Linked DNA regions of Homo sapiens. The protein of the gene in region 1 purifies or fractionates together with the protein of each later gene. This does not show direct contact. Each region holds a gene or a part of one and is shown in the gene's direction. Other genes may lie near its edges. The genes, in order: P2RX6, GC, SULT2B1, CP, KLK9, ITIH4 and SDR16C5.

Region 1 (3,344 bases):
GCCACTGTGCCTGGCCTCAAGTTTCATAAATTGCATTTATTATCATGTCTTTGAGTCTTCTAAGCAGATCTATTGGATCCTTCTGCCACCGAGCGTCACCTCGTCATGCAGGCAGGCACACACGACCACCAGGCCTGGGGATGATGCCCCTCAACATAGCTCACTGCACCCCGTCTGATCTGGCTTCCCCAACCTCCCCAGCCCTTCGAAACCACGTGGGGCTGGCTCCCACCCACATCCTGTTCCCCTGACCTCTGTGCTGGCAAACCACCTGTGTGCATGTTCCTTCAGGCCCAGCCTCATGTCCCCTCCAGGAAGTCTACCCCAGTTCCCAGGGAAGAGTGAGTTCCCATCTCTGGAATCCCTCAGCCCTGAGCCTGCCCCTTCACATCCCCCGCTGCTGGGTCTGTTTAGGGACTCCTCTGTCCCCCGTCCTCTCAGCAGGCAGGGAACTTCTGAGGGACAGGTCTTCGTTTGCTTTTTCTGTTTTCTCACCAATTACATAGGGCTGAGACCCAGGACTCAGGCTTGGGCTGGGGGTTTATAGAGTCAATTGACAAGTTGGACAGAGGTCTGGCAGGGCCAGCCCCACCTGGGGGTGGGCAAAGCAGGTCACCAGAGCCTTCTTTCCTGCCCACAGGACAGCCACTCACTGGTGGGAGCAACCGGGTGTGGAGGCCCGCACCCTGCTCAAGCTCTATGGAATCCGCTTCGACATCCTCGTCACCGGGCAGGTAGGCACAGGTAGGGGTCAGGCCGGGGATGGGATGGGGCAGGCAGACAGGGCTGGAGGAGGCATGAGGCTGACAGTCGTGGGCTGAGAGGTTCAGCTCAGATCTCTCTCAGGCAGGGAAGTTCGGGCTCATCCCCACGGCCGTCACACTGGGCACCGGGGCAGCTTGGCTGGGCGTGGTGAGTGCGAGCACTGTGGGCACCTGCAGGCTGCAGTGAGTGCTGCTGACCAGGGTGTGTCCAATGCATGCTGGAGCCTCCGGTGCCTGCACATTGAGTCTCGGGGTGCAGGCTGGGGAGGTGGCAGGAGAGCAGGCTCGGGGGCTGGAACATGGGTTGGCCCTGCCTCTCCCAGGTCACCTTTTTCTGTGACCTGCTACTGCTGTATGTGGATAGAGAAGCCCATTTCTACTGGAGGACAAAGTATGAGGAGGTGAGCTGAGGTCGCTCTGCTTGGACCCTGGGTTCTGCCACACTTAGGAAGATGTTGGCTGGATCCCTGACCTGCTGTCCTCATCTGCAGGCCAAGGCCCCGAAAGCAACCGCCAACTCTGTGTGGAGGGAGCTGGCCCTTGCATCCCAAGCCCGACTGGCCGAGTGCCTCAGACGGAGCTCAGCACCTGCACCCACGGCCACTGCTGCTGGGAGTCAGACACAGACACCAGGATGGCCCTGTCCAAGTTCTGACACCCACTTGCCAACCCATTCCGGGAGCCTGTAGCCGTTCCCTGCTGGTTGAGAGTTGGGGGCTGGGAAGGGCGGGGCCCTGCCTGGGGATCTCAAGGATGAGGCCCCAGCATGGAGGATTGGGGGTAGAATTCCACCCTTGAACCCCAGCAGACAGTCCCTCCCCTGACTCCCACCTTGGTAGGGTGCTGCCTCAGGGAGCCATAGAAGTCGGCTGTGTTTTGAGACGGCGACAGAACCTGACCCGTGGAGACTGGGAGAGCCCAGCAGGCACCTGTATTGCAGGGCTCCGACTGCATGTGGCAGGGGCTCCTGCTGCGTCTGGGCCTGGAGGTCTCTCTCCCAGTGCTCTGTCCCCAGTGTTCCTAGCAGAGGTATGCTTACCAGCTGTCAGCACAGACCCTCCTGCTGCCTGGGTCCTGGCCCTCCTCCCCCATCTGCACCCCCATCATAGGTAGAGACCCCACCCTCCCATCGGTCCTACATGGGGCTGTGCAGCTGGAGCCAAAAAGGCAAGGTAGAAAGAGGAGTGATGGGGGAGGGGGATTGTTTCAGCTTCTCTGGTGCTGTGATGCCCCAGGAGAGTCCTAATCTAGGGAATGGGGTGGAGTAGGCAGATAATCCACCTCCCTATCCCCCAGGCAAGGGCGGAGCATGTGTCTTGGGCCCACACCTGCTTAGTTTATGAGGACCGGCTGCTTTCCAGTGGTAGCCCTTTTGCCATGGAGGTCTGGGAGAGAGAGCAGAGGGCGGCAGGGCTAAGTTGGTGATCATTGGGTTCTTCAGGACCTTCTATATCCCTCCTCGGTAACCCCCCAGCCCAACCCCTTGGAATCTTTCCTCCAGGCTTCCTGAGAGCCCTGGGGGTGGGAGGCTGTGGGAGGCTGTACATCTGAAATTCACTTCAGTCCAAGTCATACCTAGGAAGCTGTCTGGGCAGCTGCTCGAGGGAGGCCCTGGCTCTGATCCCAGGCTGGATGGAGTGGCTGGAAGGAATGGTTCCAAACAACACCACCGAGATCTCCCTCAGGCTGGCCAGGTTTTGCAGCTGGAATTCTCCTCTTGGTCCCAGGGCGGGGCAGGGAATTCTAAGTGTCCACCCCAGGGAGGCAAGGGGCTGCTTTCCACTGTGGGTACCTGGTGATCAGGGCAAGCTGTGGAGGGCCAGGGGTGGGGCTGAGACTGGGCTGACATCTAGAATCACCTGCCACCTGGAGCCTCAGTAAAATGCCTGGGGTCCCTGCTGCCTCTCAATCTCCAGAGCCATGTCCATGGGGAGGTGGGCTCTGAAGGGCGAAGGTGGGAGAGCAGGGCCCCTGAGGCCTGGGTATCCAAGGAGGGGCACGTGCACCTGATTCTCCTTGGGGCCCAGAGGAAGCTGATGTCATGGCTGGACAAAGTCACGGAGTAAAGCCAGCAAAGCCACCCTCTTCCTGTGTAGTCCTTACAGGCATGACTGGAAAGTTGGGGGGCATCTATGGTAGACATGGCACAGCCATGAAGAGACCAGTGGGGTGGTGCAGGGTGGACTTGGGGACCCTACCCCTGAAGACTGAGGCCCTGCAGCTACCAGGTGGGCTAGAAGGTAACTGGAACAGGCCTGGGCACTTGTGCACCCATGTAGGAGCATGAGGGCCACACTCTTTTCACCTCAAAGCCCTTGAAGAGTGGGCAAAGACAGCAAGAGAGCTGCAGCCTGGGCCCGAGCTCAGAAACAGCTGTCGCCTCAGTCTGCGCACAGGCATGCACCCCAGGGTAGTGCCTGCAGGGATGCATGTGTCCCCGTGGGGGTGCCTGTGCCAGGCAGGCCTCAGGTGCATGCCATGCTCAGAACCCTGCTGCCCTTTCTAGGCAGCCTCCTTGGGGCCCAAGCTCTGCTCCCTGGATCTGCCACCTAGCAGACGTGGGGAGCCTGACCCCATGCC
Region 2 (3,500 bases), on another chromosome or scaffold:
AAGACATGAACTCATCCTTTTTTATGGCTGCATAGTATTCCATGGTCTATATGTGCCACATTTTTTAAATCCGGTCTATCATTGATGGACATTTGGGTTGGTTCCAAGTCTTTGCTATTGTGAATAGTGCCACAATAAACATACATGTGCATGTGTCTTTATAGCAGCATGATTTAAAATCCTTTGGGTATATACCCAGTAATAAGATGGCTGAGTCAAATGGTATTTCCAGTTCTAGATCCTTGAGGAATAGTCACACTGTCTTCCGCAATGGTTGAACTAGTTTACAGTCCCACCAACAGTGTAGAAGTGTTCCTGTGTCTCCACATCCTCTCCAGCACCTGTTGTTTCCTGACTTTTTAATGATTGCCATTCTAACTGGTGTGAGATGGTATCTCATTGTGGTTTTGATTTGCATTCCTCTGATGACCAGTGATGATGAGCATTTTTTTCATGTGTTTTTTGGCTGCATAAATGTCTTCTTTTGAGAAGTGTCTGTTCATATCCTTTGCCCACTTTTTGATGGGGTTGTTTGTTTTTTTCTTATAAATTTGTTTAAGTTCTTTGTAGATGCTGGATATTAGCCCTTTGTCAGATGGGTACATTGCAAAAAGTTTCTCCCATTCTGTAGGTTGCTGTTCACTCTGATGGTAGTTTCTTTTGCTGTGCAGAAGCTTTTTAGTTTAATTAGATCCCATTTGTCAATTTTGGCTTTTGTTGCCTTTGCTTTTGGTGTTTTAGACATGAAGTCCTTGTCCACACCTATGTCCTGAATGGTATTGCCTAGGTTTTCTTCTAGGGTTTTTATGGTTTTAGGTCTAACATTTAAGCCTTTAATCCATCTTGAATTAATTTTTGTATAAGGTGTAAGGAAGAGATCCAGTTTCAGCTTTCTACATATGGCTAGCCAGTTTTCCCAGCACCATTTATTAAATAGGGAATCCTTTCTCCATTTCTTGTTTTTGTCAGGTTTGTCAAAGATCAGAGGGTCGTGACACAGCTACAAAATTATTAAGGTAATCATGCCAACAGGAAATAAACCACTGCAGTTGATAAGAGCTGTTGGCAAAAAGAGGTTTTTATTATGAACATTTTCCTTTTTGCTTTAAGCATTTCATTCACAGCATTTTTTTTTATTAAACATGATATAAAACTGCAAGAAGAAAGTTCCCTTTGGGTTGGTGGGTGAGCTACACTTTTCCTTCTCTTCCTTCCCTGTCAAAACAGCCCTACGCAAGGGCTGAAGTCATACAGCTCTCATCACTGAGAGCAATGTTAACCTCCCTGAAAATCAATAGCAATGTTTCATCTTACTGATATCAGGTGCAATGCCACATATGCAGTCACCAATATGTAATATAAGGAGAAGTGTGCACACTCTGTAAAACACCACCAGCTTAATCTATTTAGGACAGGAGAAAATGAAGAAACCTCTAAAAGGAATTGATGATGCCCTTCCCCAGTATTTTTGGTCACCTAACTTCTTCATTCTACCCATTGCTTCTTCTCTCTCTCTCCTATTTTTCTCATTCATTCTGATCTGACCACACTGGCCTCCACATTATCTCACACTCTAAGTCCTTTGCACCCCAGGGCTTTGCATTAGTTCTTCTCTATTCCTAGAACATTGATTGTCCAGATATTCTCATAGCTCCCTTCCTCACCTTCTTCAGGCATCTACTCCAAGTCCATTTATAGAGGGGGCTTCCCTAGCCAACCTACCACAAATAACACCTACCAGTCCATTATCTTCTATCCCCTTATTTGGATTTATTTTTTCTTCTTAGCACCTAGTACCTTACCTTATCACTGGTTGTTCATTTGCTTATTGTAACAAATATAGAATGCAAGCCTTGTGAAATTAAGAACTTTTGTTATTTCCTGTAATTCCCAGTAATAGAACATTACTTGGCATTTAGTAGGTGTTCAAAAAATTATTGTGTAATATTACAAAATTGGGTTTTTGTATATGTATGTCTACCATCAGACTCAGGTTCCTTAAAGATTGGTGGCTTTAGAGTTTTCTTTCATATGATGCCATGCTCCCAGGAGATAGCTGATGTGTCTGTGTGTGTTTTTGTGTGTGTGTATAAATAGGTATGTACATAAATATATACACTCATATGTATAAAAATGATCATGAACTGGATTTAGCCAATAATAATAATAATAATAATAATAATAATAACTGACAGCAATATTCTGTTTCCTGAGGATACAATCTTCATTTTACAAATGAGAAAACTGAGGAAGAACAGAGAGGATAAGCAACTTGCCAGCGGTCTCACTATCACCTAGGGTAGCAGGAATTCAAATCCAGGTGGTCTGTATCCAAAGCCTCTATCTTAAATCATGATAAAATACATCCTCATATGGATGTTTTCTTTGGCCCTCATGGTTTGGGCCAACAAAGTTTCTTTAAGTCTGTCTTTAAAGTCTCATTTCACTTGTCAACATTTTAAAACCTGGAGATTCCACAAAAAAATCTAGATTTCTAGCTTCTCTGGAAACACAGGAATGTGTGGTAATAAGGGCCAAATTTTCACATGGCAATGATGAACTGGAGCTGAATTGTCACTCCTCCTTTTGGACTAAACCCTCAGTTTTCACCACTGAGCATTTAATGCTTTCTTCCCTTGGATCAAATGTAAGTTGTGTGGTTCCTAGATCCTATGAGCATTTGGGTTTGCTAACCTGGGTGTCATGGTAAAATAGTAACTTGAGGTTTAACACTACCTAAAGAAAATAATATTAACAAATAATTGTATCTTTACATTTAAAATAGGCAAAATAATTAGTTACCAGTCATTTTTATTCTCTATAAATGAAATCACATATGAATTGTTTAAATATGTTTACATTTAACAAATTGTGTTTTTCATCTTAGAGAAGTGAAACTTACATAACTTTTTTTTGAAAGCTGATTTAGAAAGATTTATTGGAATATACAAGGAGTGTTATGTAGTTATACATGTCTTTCACATTCATATCTGCTGATGCAGCTGAATTCCTATGTGGGTTTTATTTTGTTTTTTTTTATATATATATAAACTTTAAGTTCTGGAATACATGTGCAGAACCTGCAGGTTTGTTACATAGGTATACATGTTCCATGGTGGTTTGCTGCACCCATCAACCCACCATCTACAGTAGGTGTTTCTCCTAATGCTATTCCTCCCCTAGCCCTCAACCCCCGACAGGCCCCAGTGTGTGATGTTCCCCTCCCTGTGTCCATGTGTTCTCACTGTTCGACTCCCATTTATGAGTGAAAATATTTTTATATGGAAATAACTGTGATTTTTTTATCTATTAAAAAATACAATAGCAAGAGCACAGTCTTAGAATAACCATTTCAGTCTTCAAATTTTACTACACGAAAGTAAATTTGTTATTTTGATATTATCAGTTCTGCTGCAAATGTTAGGTAATAATTGGTTTTAAAATGAAAATACTTTTATTTGACAATTGCATACTAGATTTTAAAAAATATAAATAACAAA
Region 3 (3,500 bases), on another chromosome or scaffold:
TTCTTTTCTTTTTTTTTTTTTTTTTTTTTTGAGACAGAGTTTCACTCTGGTTGCCCAGGCTGGAGTGCAGTGGCACCATCTCGGCTGACTGCAACAGCCGCCTCCGGGGTTCAAGCGATTCTCCTGCCTCAGCCTCCTGAGTAGCTGGGACTACAGGCGTGCGCCACCACGCCTGGCTAAATTTTTGTATTTTTAGTTGAGACAGGGTTTCACCATATAGGTCAGGCTTGTCTCAAACTCCTGACCTCGGATGATCCACCCGCCTCGTCCTCCCAAAGTGCTGGGATTACAGGTGTGAGCCACCGCGACTGGCCTGAAGCTGCTTTTTCTGAGACGGGCTGATCAAGGGGTTTCAAACAATTAAGAAATAATAAGGCATTGCCTCCCCGCTGGGTGAGATTTGGGCAGGCAGACTAGGGAGAGGGGCTTCGGGGCCAGCACTAGCGGATGCGGGGACTTGGGGAGAAGTGGAAAAAGATGCTCACGGTTCCCTCCTTCTCCACCCAGCCCCTGACGAGGGACTCAGCCTTGAAGAGTGAGGGACAGGATGCGTTTTCCTTTCCACTCGCTCTTTGGGGTGGGGGGAGGCAGTTGTGCCTGGTGGGCCTGTGTACGGACTGGCAGAGGAAAGGTTGGAAGTGGTGATGTTCAGAGTTCAGGACCCATTTGGTTTTGTTTTTTGTTTTGTTTTGTTTTGTTTTGTTTTGTTTTGTTTTGGAGACAGAGTCTTGCTCTGTCGCCCAGGCTGGAGAGCAGTGGCGTGATTTTAGCTCACTGCAACCTCCGCCTCCTGGGTTCAAGCGATTCTCCTGCCTCAGCTTCCCAAGTAGCTGGGATTACAGGCATGTGCCACCATGCCTAGCTAATTTTTGTATTTTTGATAAAGACAGGGTTTCGCCATGCTGGCCAGCTGAGTTCAGGACCCATTTGGAAAGAACTAAGCAGCCCAGTTTGCCACCCAGAGGGTCTGGAGGAGGAACTGTGGGACCCAGTGGGTCACCCATGACATGGAATAAATGCCAGGCTGAGAAGGGAGACCCTCGCCTTGCCCGGAGGCCTGGAGTGGAGGCCCTAAGAGAGGTGTGGCCAGTTACTTACGTGGGGACCAGAGCCCCAAGGATCTGGGAAAGTGGGGACCGTGACACCGCAGGCAAGAAAGCCTGCAGGGGCCAGGTGCCACAGCTCACGCCTGTAATCCCAACACTTTGGGAGGGCAAGGCAGGAGGATTGCTTGAGGCCAGGAGTTCAAGACCAGCCTGGGCAACATAGCAAACCCTCATCTCTCTTTAAAAAAAAAAAAAAAAAATTAAAAAGAAAAGAAGAATGCCCACAGGAAGGCAGTCCTGGGTTCGAATGCCGCCCCTATGGCTCAGGAGCTGGGACCCTCCTGGTAGAAAGGACTGCCCTCAGGGTTGAGCGTCTGTGAAACGGGCAATGACCGGGGAAGGGCCTGACCTGGGCTCGCAGCTGACTCAGCATTTGTGCTGTTTCTCTCTTTCCTCCTTCCCCAGTTCTGAGACCGCTGCTGAGCCAGAAACTCGAATGCTAGCAAGGGAGGGGATGGGTGAGGAATGATAATAATGATGAGCTTCCTGAGCATCTGCCCTGAGCCAGGCCCTGTGCTGAAGGCTGTGTGGGGATGAGCTCACTGAGTCTTCACAACAGCCCTGTGTGGTCCCAGTGTTACAATGCCCATTTTACAGATGGGAAAACTGAGGCCCCACTCATAACCCTCATGCCAGAGAAAGGAATCCAACAGGGGCTTGGAACTGCAGTCAGAGGCTGCCCCTCAGTGGCCATTTCTTCTCGGGGGGACTTGTCACCCTTATGGTTTCCATGACCCTGGCCACCCTCCATAGATATATACCGTGAGCCCATAGGAAAACATTTTCTCGTAGCCACCTTTTTAAAAAAACAAAAGAAACAAGTGAAATTAATTTTAATCACATATCTAATCTATCTGAAATATCATTTCCACATATAGTCAATTTCAAAAACTGTCAATGAGGCTGGGCGTGGTGGCTCATGCCTATAATCCCAGCACTTTGGGAAGCCGAGACGTGTGGATCCCTTGAGGTCAGGAGTTCGAGACCAGCCTGGCCAACATGGTGAAACCCCATCTCTAGTAAATATACAGAAATTAGGACAGCCGTGGTGGCTCACATCTGTAATCCCAGCACTTTGGGAGGCCGAGGTGGGCCTATCATTTGAACCCGGGAGGCAGAGGCTGCAGTGAGCTAAGATCCTGCCATTGCACTCCAGCCTGGGCAACAAGAGCAAAACTCCGTCTCAAAAATAAAAAAAATAAAAATTAGCCAGGTGTGGTGGTGGGCGCCCGTAATCCCAGCTACTCGGGAGGCTGAGGCAGGAGGATTGTTTGAACCCAGGAGACGGAGGTTGCTGTGGGGCTGAGATCGCACCACTGCACTCCAGCCTGGGAGACAGAGCAAGATCTTGTCTCAAAAAAATAAATTCGGGCCCGGTGTGGTGGCTCATGCCTGTAATCCCAGCATTTTGGGAGGCCGAGACAGGCGGATCACCTGAGGTGGGGAGTTCCAGACCAGCCTGACCAACATGGAGAAACCCCGTCCTACTAAAAATAGAAGAGTAGCTGGTCGTGGTGGCACATGCCTGTAATCCCAGCTACTCTGCGAGGCTGAGGCAGGAGACTCGCTTGAACCCGGGAGGCAGAGGTTGCAGTGAGCCGAGATCGTGCCATTGCACTCCAGCCTGGGCAACAAGAGTGAAACACTGTCTCAAAATAAATAAATAAATAGATAGATAAAATAAATAAATTAATTAAGATAAAATAAATAAATAATAAAGGTATGCTGGAAGGGAGAGAGAGAGGAGGTGTTTGAGAGAAAGGAGGAGAGAAAAAAAGTGAAGAGCCCCAGGCGACAGGCGTCGTGCAGGGTGCGGTTCCACGGTGTAGTGGAGCATGCGACATTCAGGGAACAAGCCAAACTGGACAGTGAGAACGGAACACTGGCAGCCCAGCTACAGTGGGACTCGGATGGGCAGGGCCTGCGGTGAGACTGTCAGGCTTCAAGGGACAGAGCCAGGGACCTCGAACCTAACGTGTGTTCCCCATCAGGCAGATGTGGGTGAGATGCTCTACATCCCAGAGCCCCACTCCCCTCTTCTCCAAAATGGGCCTTGGCTGGGTGCAGTGGCTCATGCCTGTAATCACAGCACTTTGGGAGGCTGAGGCAGGTGGATCACCTGAGGTCGGGAGTTCAAGACCAGCCTGGTCAACATGGCAAAAACCCCATGTCTACTAAAAACACAATAATTAGCCGGGCTCATTGCTCACGCCTGCAATCCCAGAACTTTGGGAGGCCAAGGCAGGAGGATCACTTGAGATCAGGAGTTTTGAGATCAGCCTGACCAACATGGCGAAACCCTGTCTCTACTAAAAATACAAAAATTAGGTCAGGTGTGGTGGCTTATGCCTGTAATCCCAACACTTTGGGAGGCTGAGGCGGGCGGATCACCTG
Region 4 (3,500 bases), on another chromosome or scaffold:
ACAAAGTGCATCAGAGCCTAGAAGAGGCAAAATCCAGAGGGAAGAGAAAGAAGGACTCAAGATGTGGATTGCCTTATCTTTGAAGTTCCTACATGTAAACATACTGTGCTGTTGTTACCTCCCATCCTAACTTTATATAAACTCTGCCCCAGCTAAGGTGGCATAAGTAGTCTCATGTCAGTCAAATGGTACATATGCCTGGATGACTGTAGTCACATATGAGACACAATTAACTGAAAAAGTCATTTGAATGTAGGACTTGGAAGCCTTGAAAATAGTACCTGAAAAACAAAGATAAGGTTTGGTGCCTGTGATCTCATTCTTAGTCCTTAACAATGATGGTAAAAAAGGTGGTATTTTGTAGTGATGAAAAGCAAGGGCTTTGAAATTAATAGACAAAGGTCTGAGCCCCAGCCTTGCCTTTCACTGTTTGAGTGACCTTGGACAAATTACTTAAGTTCTTTCAGCTTCAGTTTCCTCATCTATAAAATAGAGATAATAAGAATACATAGTAATACCTCAATAACTATCAGCTGCTATCATAAGCAAAAATGCTGAAGTCATGCTACAGTTCATTGAAATTATAATGATCGAATAGGGAAATTAATTTAAAATTAGATTTGATTCATTATTAGTTGTCTTATTAAAAGAGATATTGGTTTAGAAAGTGAATGTGTTGACTTTTTTTGTTTTTGTTGTTGTTTAGGGATAAATTACATTCATAGCATAAAAGGCTGACTGCCATCCTATTTCTTTTTAATGATTTCATGGCTTACTAGGGAATTACCATTCATTTTAAAGGTATGGTAATGGAACTGTGGTTTTGTTAGAAGAAAAAAAGGGTTCCTATCTTTTAGAGATACATACTCAAGTATTTATGAATGGAATATGATGTCTGAGACGTGCTTTAAAATAATTTGATGATACTGGGGATAAGAGTGTGTGGGGGTACAGATGAAACAAGGTTGGCCTTGAGTCGATCATTGTTAAAGCTGGTTTGATGGGTACACAGAGGTTCAGCATTTTCTTCTCTCAACCTTTGTGTGTGTTTGGAAATTTCCAAAATTGAGAGTAGAAATGTTTTTAATTTTATGGTTACTTCGTGGGCAAAAATCTGAGATCATATAAGAAGTTTTGAATTTAGAAGAGGGTAGCCTTTTTGCTCAGACTCCCATACCATGACCCGAGTTCTTTACATTGCAAACAAAAAGTCATTATGCTCTCTGAAAACCCAATCAAATATAAAAAAATAATAAAAATGTCTGTGAAGCTTCTACACACCCTAGCCATTAGCCTTTCATTTTCCTGTGTCCAAATAGGATAACACATCCCCAAGGATCACATAGTAGATGTTTAATAAATGTTTGCTGAATGAATTAATGGACTATCTATTCTCTCATTTAAGTTCAAACACATTCACTTTGCACCTTCATTGCATGTTGCTTCCTAGGGGCCATCTACCCTGATAACACCACAGATTTTCAAAGAGCAGATGACAAAGTATATCCAGGAGAGCAGTATACATACATGTTGCTTGCCACTGAAGAACAAAGTCCTGGGGAAGGAGATGGCAATTGTGTGACTAGGATTTACCATTCCCACATTGATGCTCCAAAAGATATTGCCTCAGGACTCATCGGACCTTTAATAATCTGTAAAAAAGGTACATCTTCTCCTTATTGCACATGCTATATGACCAAAAGACAGGGGCAGGGCAGTTTGTCTTTTAAAAAGAAATCAAGTCTTCTGTGCTGAGATTGAGCAGGTAAGGTAGAGAGGTGGTAAGTAGAAAAAAAGGAAGGGAAGAGCCAGGCAGGACTAGGAGAAGAAGGGATAAATAGAACAAGCATTCCTACGGGGAAAATGCCAATGAAGGTAATGTGAAAGAAATATATTCTCTCAGGGTTCAGTTTGCTGTATCTAACTTCCAACAGTGGTGCTGAAGAGACATATGACTTTACCAAATGTGACTACCAAAAGGGCACTCCACGGTGATAGATCTGTAGTTACTCATACTATATTGGTAAACATAATATCATAGTATTTATTTCTAACATCATGAAAAAGACAACGGAGCTCAAGAGCCTGAAATACAATTCTAACTTGAACAATCGTTACCTGTAAAGACTTGTCTCTGTTTGTGGCTATATGCACCAGAAAATAGACGCACAACTTTGAATTCCAATCTTCCCATTTGCCAAAAAGCATTTAATAGTTATGTGGTCAGTGGACATCCAGACACAGGAGTGTCTTCCAAGCACCAGATACTGATCATAAAAATTCCCTGAGTGTTTCTGTCTGTAAAACAGGAGTGACTGGTCCAGACTTGTGATTTATTCGAAAAAATAAATACTAACATTTTTAAAAACTATAAATCACCTGAAAACATAAATCAAAATACATGCTAAAAGTTTAGTCTTGCTAAAATAGTAACTTTAACTCCAGATTCTCTAGATAAAGAAAAAGAAAAACATATTGACCGAGAATTTGTGGTGATGTTTTCTGTGGTGGATGAAAATTTCAGCTGGTACCTAGAAGACAACATTAAAACCTACTGCTCAGAACCAGAGAAAGTTGACAAAGACAACGAAGACTTCCAGGAGAGTAACAGAATGTATTGTAAGATTACAGCAGACATGTTAACTTTACTTTTTTTTCCCTTGATCCATTAATTCTGCTAAGCTTATTCCCTCACATAAATAAGTACTGTGTGTCTAGTCTGTGGTCCTTATAACAAAGCATATTGGATGTGCAATTTGATATTCAGCTAAGTAAGTCAGAATAAAAACTCTAAGCCAGGTAAAGCCAGATACACCAAACTTGTTCCCCAACTGGTAAGGATAAAGCATCAATTATGGTTTAATGCATATGTATGTGACATTAATATATTTATTTATCCACTAGACTCATTCTAAAAATTATTTGAGGCAGCTCCAAATTATTAAACTAAATGCTTAAAACCATATTATATTTTAAAGCATCTAACTATATTTAAGAAAATAGTTCAAACCACGAGTTCTGAAAGGTATTCGTTTTACATACTATGTTGCCCTCACTGGGCCCCTTAGTCTGCATCATTCGTTTCTACATTTCAGTTCACTTTACTTTTCTAGAAATGCTTTTTTTACAGTTTAGACTTTTTCTTAATTCTCAGACACAAAATAATGAGCTTAGTAAGATTATCTATTTCTCATAATTTGCATGAGAAACAGAGTCCCTTAACAACAACTAGACCAATAAGTAGATATTTTCGTTTATTTGTTTGTGTTTAACTTCTTCAAAATAACCTGTACTCAGAAACCGAGAGCACAAAAATAACGATACTACCAAAGTAGAAAAATAAACTAGTTAACAAAGTACAGATTTTGTTTCCAACTTTTACTTATATCTGGGTGGAAGGTCCTCTTTCCATACTTTAATCCTGTCTCTGTTGTGTACTAACAAAAATAGTTGTTATAAAAAGATACTCAAAATTCTAGCCTGAGCAGGTTTGATTTGGT
Region 5 (2,292 bases), on another chromosome or scaffold:
ACATCATGCTGATCCGCCTGCCCAGGCAGGCACGTCTGAGTCCTGCTGTGCAGCCCCTCAACCTCAGCCAGACCTGTGTCTCCCCAGGCATGCAGTGTCTCATCTCAGGCTGGGGGGCCGTGTCCAGCCCCAAGGGTATGACCTGGCCCAGAACTCTCTCTGAAACTTGCTCCCTCACCCCTCTGTCTCTGCCTTTTCATCTCTGTCTTCTCCTTTTCTCTCTCCTCTCTCTCTCTGTCAGTCTATCTATCTGCCAATCGATATATTTAACCAAATATAAGATGCTAGCATTTTTAAGATGTGCCATTATTTCATGAACTGCGAAGAAGTGGAAGAAGGAGGAGGAGGAGAAGAAAAAAAGGAGGAGGAGGAAAGATCCCATTAGATCCCATTGATTATATAACACCATTTTCTGGAAGACACATTCTAATTTCAGAGTGTTTGTTTGTTTGTTTGTTTGTTTGTTTTTGAGACAGGGTCTCGCTTTGTTGCTCAGGCTGGAGTGCAGCGGTGTGATCACGGCTCATTGCAGCTTTGAACTCCTGGGCTCAAGTGATCCTCTCGCCTCAACCTCCCAAGTAGCTGGGATTACAGATATGCACCACCACATCCCACACCGGGGTCATTTTTTTATTATTTATTATTATTATTATTATTATCTTTTTTTTTGTATTTTTAGTAGAGACAGAGGTTTCACCATATTGGCCAGGCTGGTCTCAAATTCCTGACCTGGTGATCTGCCCGCCTTGGACTCCCAAAGTGCTGGGAAAACAGGCATGAGCCACTGCACCCAGCCAAAATTCTAGTCTTTTTTAAATCTAGTCATATCTTAGATTTAATTCAGATAATGTTAGAATCCTGGAGTTTTTTGATCCAGGGGAATCTGGAATGTTAGAATCTTGGATTCATAAAACTCTAAACGTTGAGCCTCTAGATTCTAGAATCATGGATACTAGTGTGTCAGAATCTGAGAATTCTAGAATCTTAGATTCTGGGCATTCTAATAGTATCCTGGAATCCACCTGATGCAGGAATCCTCTCTCCATTGCCTCTGAAAAGTGACCATCCATACTGTTCCAATTTTCTTCCCTCCATGAATAAAGCACTGATTCTGGTAAAAGATGCTGGGTGGGAATTTCCCATCATGCATTGCTCCATGATGGGACCTCCTTTAACTTAAGCCTTATGCTAAAAATTTTTATTATTTTTAGCAAAGATGAGGTCTTGCTATGTTGTCCAGGCTAGTCTCAAACTCCTGGCCTCCCAAAGTGCTGAGATTACAAGTGTGAGCCACTGTACCTGGCCCAGAGATGTTTAAATGTGAAATGCGTTCATCTTAGAATGGGAATAAGACCATGTCTCTCAGAGTCACGGATCACTGACCCATTAGCCAAATTGGGTCAGTGGATTGGAAAAACAGTCTGAATTTGTTGCTGCCAATATCTAAAACTTGGAAAGTTTTATACAAAAGCCAGGTTTCTGGATTCACCTGAAAAAGTTTGAAGAACTCACATTCCCAAAATAGCAAGCATTGGGCTGAGTCAATGGAGGCTGCCCCCTTCAGCCAAGATAAGTTCTCTGATTCACTCCAATGGACCCAAATGGCTCCTGTCTCCCTGCACAGCCCCCGTCCCCGACTTCTGTTTACCAATTCTGTTTATCATATCCCTTGATGCATCGGAGCCTGCACCCATGTCTTATATAGATGCACATGTGTATTATATATCCATATCCACATCTATACTGACTACACTGTATCTGGTATCTCTGTCTATGTCTCTGTCTCCATCAGTGACCATCTTCCTGCAAATCTCTTTCCTTTTATCTCACTGCCTTCATTCCACCCCTTGAGGTCTGGGTCTTTTTCTATTTCTTTTTTTTTTTTTTTTAAGAGACTGAGTCTTGCTCTTGTTGCCCAGGCTGGAGTGCAGTGGTGTGATCTCGGCTCACTGCAACCTCCACCTCCTGGGTTTTAAGTGATCCTCCTGCCTCAGCCTCCCGAGTAGCTGGGACTACAGGTGTGCAACAGCATGCCCAGCTGATTTTTTGTATTTTCAGTAGAGACGGAGTTTCACCATGTTGGCCAGGATGGTCTCAATCTCTTGACCTTGTGATCCGCCCGCCTCAGCCTCCCAAAGTGCTAGGGAGTTATATATGCATCTCCTCTTATCTCTTGGCTCTCTGCATGCATCTTTCTGTTTCTCTTCCTTCCTTTCTTTTTTTTTTTTTTTTTTTTTTTTTTTTTTTTTTTTTTGAGACGGAGTCTTGCTCTGTCTCCCAGGCTGGAGTGCA
Region 6 (3,500 bases), on another chromosome or scaffold:
ACCAAGAGCAGTCTCAAGTTGCTGAGAAGCCCATGGAAGGCGGTGGGTGTGGGGTTGAGATCTCAGCCTCCCAGGTAGCAGAGTTTGGACCCAGCGTTCTCCCCGATCTTCCCTGCATCCTGACCAAGACCCCAACCGTGCCCCCAACAGACTCCCCCTGGGAGATTCAGCCTATTCACTGATGAGGAAAGTGAAGCCGGGTCTCCTGTCTCCCCAAATTCATTGCACCTACGATATAGTCCAGGATTGGGTAGCAAGATTAAACACAAGCGCTTCAAATTGATGAAAACCACCCTGACGGTGTCTGTCTGTGTCTCTGTCTGTCTGTCTCTCTCTCTCTCTTTGTTTTATCCAGAAAGTAGAAACAGGAATGTCCACTCAGGTAAGCAGCGAACATCCTCAAAGGCTGTGCTGGGTGGTGGTCTGCTAACACAGGGTCCAGGGCACCAGCCCTGTGAGGTTGCTGGCCAGGGCCCAGGTCCACCCAGGCCTCTCCAGCCCATCCCTGCTGCCAGGAGGCAGTGTAATCTGACCCAGCATGCTGGTGCATTTAGTCGCCTGTGCATTCAAATATTGGCTGTGCCTCAGGCCCTGTCCCCAGCACTAAGAATACAGTCCCCATCCAAGTGGGGCCACAGGAAGGTGGGTGCAAGATGCAAACCCAGGTCCCACTGATTTCCAGGTTCCACTTTCTTCAAATATTATCTCCAGGGAGCAAAAATACCAAAACCAGGTGACAAAGTAGGAGGTGGGGGGAGGGGAGATTGACAGATTGGGCTCAGTCCTGGCTGTGGAGGGTAGTGCCTTGCCCAGCTCCTCTGGCTGGTGACAGCCCTCGGGCCTCAGTTCAGTTGTATCTGATCAGGACTTGACCACACAGAGGCTTCCTTTTCTCCAAGAAGAGGATGGAATAGACAAGGTAGTTTGAGGGTTTCTGCCAGGGGGAGGCATGACATCCCTGGGGGGGAGCTTGAGGGAGGTCCATTATTGTTCATCTCCCAGCTGTTGGGGGAGAGGCTCCCCAAGTTGGCCGGGTGTGGGGAGAGGGGACATAGCTGCCCTCTCCGCACCCACTCCTGGGTGGATCTCAAGCCCTGGCTGTGAAGACCCACACCCCACCTGAGAGAAGACTGCATCTGTCGATTTCTCCAAAGCTGGAGCTGCTGGCTCCCGGATGAATTTCAGACCTGGGGTTCTCAGCTCCAGGCAACTTGGACTCCCAGGACCTCCTGATGTTCCTGACCATGCTGCTTACCACCCCTTCCGCCGTCTGGCCATCTGTAAGCTGCCTTCCGGCCCTGCGAGGGCCTCGGTTTCCCACGGTGGTCCTTGAGCCTGCCCCATAGAGGGGGGTGGGGTAAAGCACGCACCACAGGGCCAGGCCAGGGACGGCTGCTGAGGGCACGATGTGAAGTAATTGTGGGTCAGTTCAACCTGGGATCATTTACTGGGGCTGGGGTGGGAGTGCATTTCCTAAGGAGGCTGTCCTCGCCTTCCCAGCTCTTTGCAGCTGCCCCCTGCCCCATCCTTAGCGTCTCATCTCCTCAGATGCGAGCTCACCCGGGTCCTTTAGCTGCCCCTAGGTTGTCAGACCACAGGCCATGACAGAGCAGCCTCTCCCACACTCCTTGTTCAGAGGGGACCCTAGGCCCTAAGAGGGGCACGGACTGGCCAAGCATGCACATCACAGCGCTCTTTGGAGCAGTCCTTGCCAGCTTCCTCTCTCTGAAGGCCCCTCTCCCCACTACCCAGTGTATGGACATCAGGCCTCCCCTCCCCAAGGCAGGACTTCACCTGTCCTTTACTTTCACTGAGTAGGATCCACTATACTCTAGAGGCTGACTCATGAGGAAACCTTCTAGGAAGGGAGGGCTTCCTCCGTTCAGAAAGCCAACAGAGGTCCCTTGAACTGTTTTCTGATCCCCAAATCTGCACTCGAATGCAGCTGCACAGCCAGGCTGGACCTATCCCTGACAGCATGCTCTTCTGTTTGAAAATCTCCTGTGACAAAGGCCATTCTAGGTGGAGTGTATGTGTGGCAGGATGGGGGGCTGGAGCTTGGTGGCAGCGCTGCTGGTTGCCCGCCTCCTGACTGCCTTCCTGCTCCCTTTCTGTTTCCGGATGTTCCTGCCCTAGTGCCTGCTTCAGCACCACCAGCCACCTCAAATCCTGATCCAGCTGTGTCTCGTGTCATGAATATGAAAATCGAAGGTGCCCCCAAGGCCAGAGGCCCTGTCCTAACAGGGGGATCCTGGGAGGGGAGTGACCTGTCACATGTCTCGATGTTGAAGTAGTGAGGGAACCCAGCCACACCTAGTCACTGCTCCCTCCCTCAACCTCCCACTCCTCAGGAAGGGGCTGCCTAAACCCAGACTTTTTCTTCTTTTAGAAACAACCATGACAACCCAAACCCCAGGTAAGTTCCCAGCCCCCTTGGCCCCTTTCCACATCCTTGCCCCCAGCCTGCCCTTCCTGCTCCAGGAGCCGTGCCCCGGCTGTCCCAGCCCCCATACAGGCTCCCTCTGCCATCCTGCCACTGCCTGGGCAGAGTGTGGAGCGGCTCTGTGTGGACCCCAGACACCGCCAGGGGCCAGTGAACCTGCTCTCAGACCCTGAGCAAGGTGAGAGAGGCACACCCAGAGAGACCCAGACACCACTGGCACACACCCACCACCTGCCTACAGAGACACACACAGCGCGTGCAGGCTGGCCCCACACAGGCCCCTCCCAGATCATAGCATGGTCCTGCCTCCCAGTGCTGGCATGGGCACACACTCACACAGACACCCCGGGGACCTTCCACTGGGCACCTTGTGTGCAGGTGTGGGTGGCCAAGGCACAGATAAGCATGGCAGCCATGTGGAGGTGAGCCTAGAGGAGGAGCCAGGGTGGGGCAAGGGTCAGGGGAGCTGCCTGGGGTCACACAGGGATGGCAGGGCCATGGCGGGTGCACAGAGACCAGCATGAGGATGTTCCAGATGATGGAGGAGTTAGTGCCTGCAGAGTACAGAGCCCCAAAAGATGAGACCTAGAAGGTGTGGATGAGGGGAATGGCAGGAAGAGACAGGGGTGCTGGCTGGGCCCTGCCCCTTCAATCCTGGACCAGACATGGGGACACACTCCACTCAGCAGTGCTCACCCCCGCACCGCCCAGCCCCGCTCAAAGCCAAGGGACATCCATGGCTTTCTCATTCCTCAGATGCATGTGTCACCCACTTCCTCACTCAGGCTAGGAATGTCTTTCCTGAGGGCAGGGAGCACCAATTCTCCATCTTACCCTTGGCCGCGGCATCTAGCTCAGGGCCAGGCGCTCCATGGGGCGTTCTGAAGGCTTATTGACTGGAGACAAGTTAATTCTCAAAGGCCTCAACTGAGGGTGGCCGTCGCCGAGGATTTAGGGGCCCCTCCAAAGCCTTAGACACCAAGGGACAAGTGGAGAGATTGTGGGAGCCAGCCCCCAGTGTGAAGGAGTGCTGAGAAAGGGGCACCCCTCCTGATGA
Region 7 (3,500 bases), on another chromosome or scaffold:
TAATGACATTTTGGTCAGTGATGGACCATATACAAAATGGTGGTCCCACATTATGGGACAGATTATTACAGTATTTTTACTGTCCCAATGTTCTATGATTAGATACACAAATACTTAACCAATGTGTTAACAGTTGCCTACAGTGTTCAGTATAGTAACACACTGTACAGGTGGGTAGCCTAGGAGCAATAGGCTCTACCATATGGCCTAAGATGTGTAGTAGCCACACATCTAGGTTTATTAAGTACACTCTGTGATCTTCACATAGCAACCAAGTCACCTAACAATGCACTTCTCAGAATGTATCTCCATTGTTAAGTGATTTATGACTGTACTTTCTCTTTTCCTCTATTTATTCCCTAATCCAGCCCCTTCTCCGTGTGTGAGGTCTTGATCTATGTCACATTTGGCTATAATGAAGCTATTCTTATGTCCCATCATATTGATTAAAATGAAATGCCACATACAGAGCACAGAACAAAGTTACTAACCACTGAGTAGAAGAACAGCTCTAACTGTAAACAGAAAGTAGCATTTTGAACATGGACTCATTTTAAGAAGAGAAAAATGGGAAAAGCACATCAAAACTTGATCTCTGGAGGTCAGGCGCAGTGGCTCATGCCTGTAATCCCAACACTTTGGGAGGCCAAGACGGGTGGATCATGAGGTCAGGAGATCGAGACCATCCTGGCTAACACGGTGAAAACCTGTCTCTACTAAAAATACAAAAAATTAGCCGGGTGTGGTGGTGGGCACCTGTAGTCCTAGCTACTTGGGAGGCTGAGGCGGGAGAATGGTGGGAACCCAGGAGGCGGAGCTTGCAGTGAGCCAAGATCGTGCCACTGCACTCCAGCCTGGTCGACAGAGCAAGACTCCATCTCAAAAAAAAAAAAAAAAACTTGGTGTGTGGTGCATTGTAGACTCAGCAATGGAAATAAACCAACCTGTATTTATTTCTTTATTTATTTTTTTAGATGCAGTCTCACTCTGTCACCCAGGCTGGAGTGCAGTGGTGTGATCTTGGCTCACTACAACCTCCACCTCCCTGGTTTAAGCAATTCTCCTGCCTCAGCCTCCCGAGTAGCTGGGGCTAGAGGCACGCATCACCATGCCTGGCTAATTTTTGTAATTTTAATAGAGACAGGATTTTGCCATGTTGGCCAGGCTGGTCTCAAACTCCTGTCCTCAAGTCACCCCCCTGCCTCGGCCTGCCAGAGTGCTGGGATTACAGGTGTGAGCCACTGCGCCTGGCCCCAAGCTGTATTTTTAGAGTGCATAAACTCAGTATGAATTAACCAGGATAAAAAAAACATAAAACTCTGGGAAAATAAAACCTAGCCCATGTAAGGAATTACTACATTGGTGGTGTTGCTCTTATTCAATTCAGGTTAAAAAAGAAGTCGGCGATGTTTCCATCCTAATCAACAATGCCGGAATCGTAACAGGCAAAAAGTTCCTTGACTGTCCAGATGAGCTTATGGAAAAGTCATTTGATGTGAATTTCAAAGCACATTTATGGGTAATAATTGTTTCTTCTCATCATAAATGTAAAATTATTCTGGCATTTGGAAGTATTTTCCTCTTGCTCTTTTACAATATTATTAGCCTCTAAGTAAAGCAGAGACTTCTCAGTTTTGGACTTGTCCTGTTCTACACAGTTGTCCTTTTCTGATGCCACTTAATCTACAGCCCCCAGGACCTCTGCTTAGGGAATTCTACAAGGACAGAACTGTCCTCATGGTCCTGCTACCATGTATTGATTAGCTGCAAATGTTAGGAAATACTCCAGGTGGCTCACATATTTTCCTTAAAACAGCTCGGTGAGATAAGGGATCATAGAACTTAAAAGATTTGCTCCAGGCTACATAGCGAGCAACTGCACTTAGACAGGACCAGGGTAGCTTTGTAATTTGCCTAAGCTGGGACACTTTTGGAAGTGAAATTCAGCATTATTAATGAGCAAGTGTTAATCAGGTCTGTTATGGGCAAACCAAAACCTATAGTCACCTTAGTTAGTACCCAACCAGAGAAATTAGAGGTTCCACTGGTAACCCAGGTTACCACCTGCTACCAGCGCTAAAAGCACAGTCCTGACTTCTAAAGCCACCCACTCAATTCCAGAAGTTGCATGTTTCTGGCCTTTGCTGAGACCAGCCATCTCAGGCCTCCCCACACTATGCATGCACCCTCTTGCTGCCTCTCCCAGCTTTTATTAAAAGTTGTATTTTTATTTTACTTTATCATTTTATTTTAATTTTTTGAGACAGAGTCTCATTCTGTCTCCCAGGCTGGAGTTCAGTGGTGTGATCTCAGCTCACTGCAACCTCCAACCTCCCGGATTCAAGCGATTCTCGTGCCTCAGCCACCTGAGTAGCTGGGATTACAGGTGCGCGCCACCACACCCAACTAATTTTTTGTGTTTTTAGTAGAGACAGGGTTTCACCACATTGGCCAAGCTGGTCTTGAACTCCTGGCCTCAAGTGTTCCGCCTGCCTTGGCCTCCCACAGTGCTGGGATCACAGGACTTTTGACCTGTTTGGTTCCAGCCCTGCTCGTAGCTCGTCATTCCTGGGCAAGGCTCTCTCTTGGGAGTCTTTGCTGGAGATTTCTGAGCTCCTCCTCCATTCTCCTCACACCTTTCCACCCAAGTCTTCTTTAGCAGCCTTCAAATGTAATTTGGAATTTGTAGATTTTCTGTCCCCTATTTCCACCAAAAATGTAATGGTGCTGGTGCTATTCTTGGTGTTTTGTAAAGTTTTCAGGAGAAAAATGGAAAGATTCAGAATTTAGTGGCTACCATGTTCCTACAAGAACTACTGCAAATGATTTATCTTGTCCCAAATGTCCCTCTCCTTGGTGCTTGCTTATACTCATATATAGTCAGAATGAAGATAAAGACCATGGTCCCTGGAAGTCTCCACTCCCATGGCTTTGTGTTCTTTTTCTTTTTTTTTTTTTTGAGATAGAGTATCACTTTGCCGCCAGGCTGGAGTGCAGTGGCGCGATCTCGGCTCACTGCAACCTCCACCTCCCGGGTTCAAGCAATTCTCCTACCTCAGCCTCCCAGGTATCTGGGACTATGGGCGCACGCCACCACACCCAGCTAATTTTTGTACTTTTAGTAGAGACAGGGTTTTGCCATGTTGGCCAGGCTGGTCTCCATCTCTTGACCTTGTGATCCGCCCGCCTCAGCCTCCCAAAGTGCTTGGATTACAGGTGTGAGCCACTGCGCTTGGCCTGGCTTTGTGTTCTTTTCCTACCTCTCTGTTTTTCCCCAGGTGCCTTCATGGTGTCTGTCTCTCTCTTTTCTTCTTTTCTTCTTCTTCCTCTTCCTCCTTCCTCCTCCTCCTCCTTCCTCCTCCTCCTTCCTCCTCCTCCTCCTTCCTCCTCCTCCTCCTTCCTCCTCCTCCTCCTTCCTCCTCCTCCTCCTTCCTCCTCCTCCTCCTTCCTCCTCCTCCTCCTTCCTCCTCCTCCTCCTTCCTCCTCCTCCTTCCTCCTCC

What was found.
Region 2: the proteins of P2RX6 (region 1) and GC purify together in Homo sapiens (affinity purification with mass spectrometry; one large-scale study listed by BioGRID and IntAct). This does not show direct contact.
Region 3: the proteins of P2RX6 (region 1) and SULT2B1 purify together in Homo sapiens (affinity purification with mass spectrometry; one large-scale study listed by BioGRID and IntAct). This does not show direct contact.
Region 4: the proteins of P2RX6 (region 1) and CP purify together in Homo sapiens (affinity purification with mass spectrometry; one large-scale study listed by BioGRID and IntAct). This does not show direct contact.
Region 5: the proteins of P2RX6 (region 1) and KLK9 purify together in Homo sapiens (affinity purification with mass spectrometry; one large-scale study listed by BioGRID and IntAct). This does not show direct contact.
Region 6: the proteins of P2RX6 (region 1) and ITIH4 purify together in Homo sapiens (affinity purification with mass spectrometry; one large-scale study listed by BioGRID and IntAct). This does not show direct contact.
Region 7: the proteins of P2RX6 (region 1) and SDR16C5 purify together in Homo sapiens (affinity purification with mass spectrometry; one large-scale study listed by BioGRID and IntAct). This does not show direct contact.

What each region holds. Positions count from the first base shown.
Region 1 is NC_000022.11:21,025,165-21,028,508, forward strand, and holds the end of P2RX6 (P2X purinoceptor 6), read left to right. Parts: intron 1-640; coding exon 641-734; coding exon of another isoform or gene 735-744; intron 745-846; coding exon 847-912; coding exon of another isoform or gene 913-1,087; coding exon 1,088-1,165; intron 1,166-1,255; coding exon 1,256-1,453; coding exon of another isoform or gene 1,454-1,562; 3' UTR 1,563-2,844; downstream 2,845-3,344. UniProt on the Homo sapiens protein: May act as a modulatory subunit rather than a functional channel. Unlike other P2XRs members, P2RX6 does not seem to form functional homotrimers.
Region 2 is NC_000004.12:71,777,580-71,781,079, reverse strand, and holds part of GC (vitamin D-binding protein isoform 1 precursor), read left to right. Parts: intron 1-3,500. UniProt on the Homo sapiens protein: Involved in vitamin D transport and storage, scavenging of extracellular G-actin, enhancement of the chemotactic activity of C5 alpha for neutrophils in inflammation and macrophage activation.
Region 3 is NC_000019.10:48,558,672-48,562,171, forward strand, and holds part of SULT2B1 (sulfotransferase 2B1), read left to right. Parts: intron 1-3,500. UniProt on the Homo sapiens protein: Sulfotransferase that utilizes 3'-phospho-5'-adenylyl sulfate (PAPS) as sulfonate donor to catalyze the sulfate conjugation. Responsible for the sulfation of cholesterol.
Region 4 is NC_000003.12:149,208,330-149,211,829, reverse strand, and holds part of CP (ceruloplasmin precursor), read left to right. Parts: intron 1-1,450; coding exon 1,451-1,663; intron 1,664-2,445; coding exon 2,446-2,619; intron 2,620-3,500. UniProt on the Homo sapiens protein: Multifunctional blue, copper-binding (6-7 atoms per molecule) glycoprotein. It has ferroxidase activity oxidizing Fe(2+) to Fe(3+) without releasing radical oxygen species. It is involved in iron transport across the cell membrane.
Region 5 is NC_000019.10:51,004,301-51,006,592, reverse strand, and holds part of KLK9 (kallikrein-9 precursor), read left to right. Parts: coding exon 1-135; intron 136-2,292.
Region 6 is NC_000003.12:52,817,173-52,820,672, reverse strand, and holds part of ITIH4 (inter-alpha-trypsin inhibitor heavy chain H4 isoform 1 precursor), read left to right. Parts: coding exon 1-42; intron 43-355; coding exon 356-382; intron 383-682; coding exon 683-733; intron 734-880; coding exon 881-919; intron 920-1,154; coding exon 1,155-1,280; intron 1,281-2,136; coding exon 2,137-2,211; intron 2,212-2,389; coding exon 2,390-2,416; intron 2,417-2,504; coding exon 2,505-2,621; intron 2,622-3,500. UniProt on the Homo sapiens protein: Type II acute-phase protein (APP) involved in inflammatory responses to trauma. May also play a role in liver development or regeneration.
Region 7 is NC_000008.11:56,310,176-56,313,675, reverse strand, and holds part of SDR16C5 (epidermal retinol dehydrogenase 2), read left to right. Parts: intron 1-1,387; coding exon 1,388-1,519; intron 1,520-3,500. UniProt on the Homo sapiens protein: Oxidoreductase with strong preference for NAD. Active in both the oxidative and reductive directions. Oxidizes all-trans-retinol in all-trans-retinaldehyde.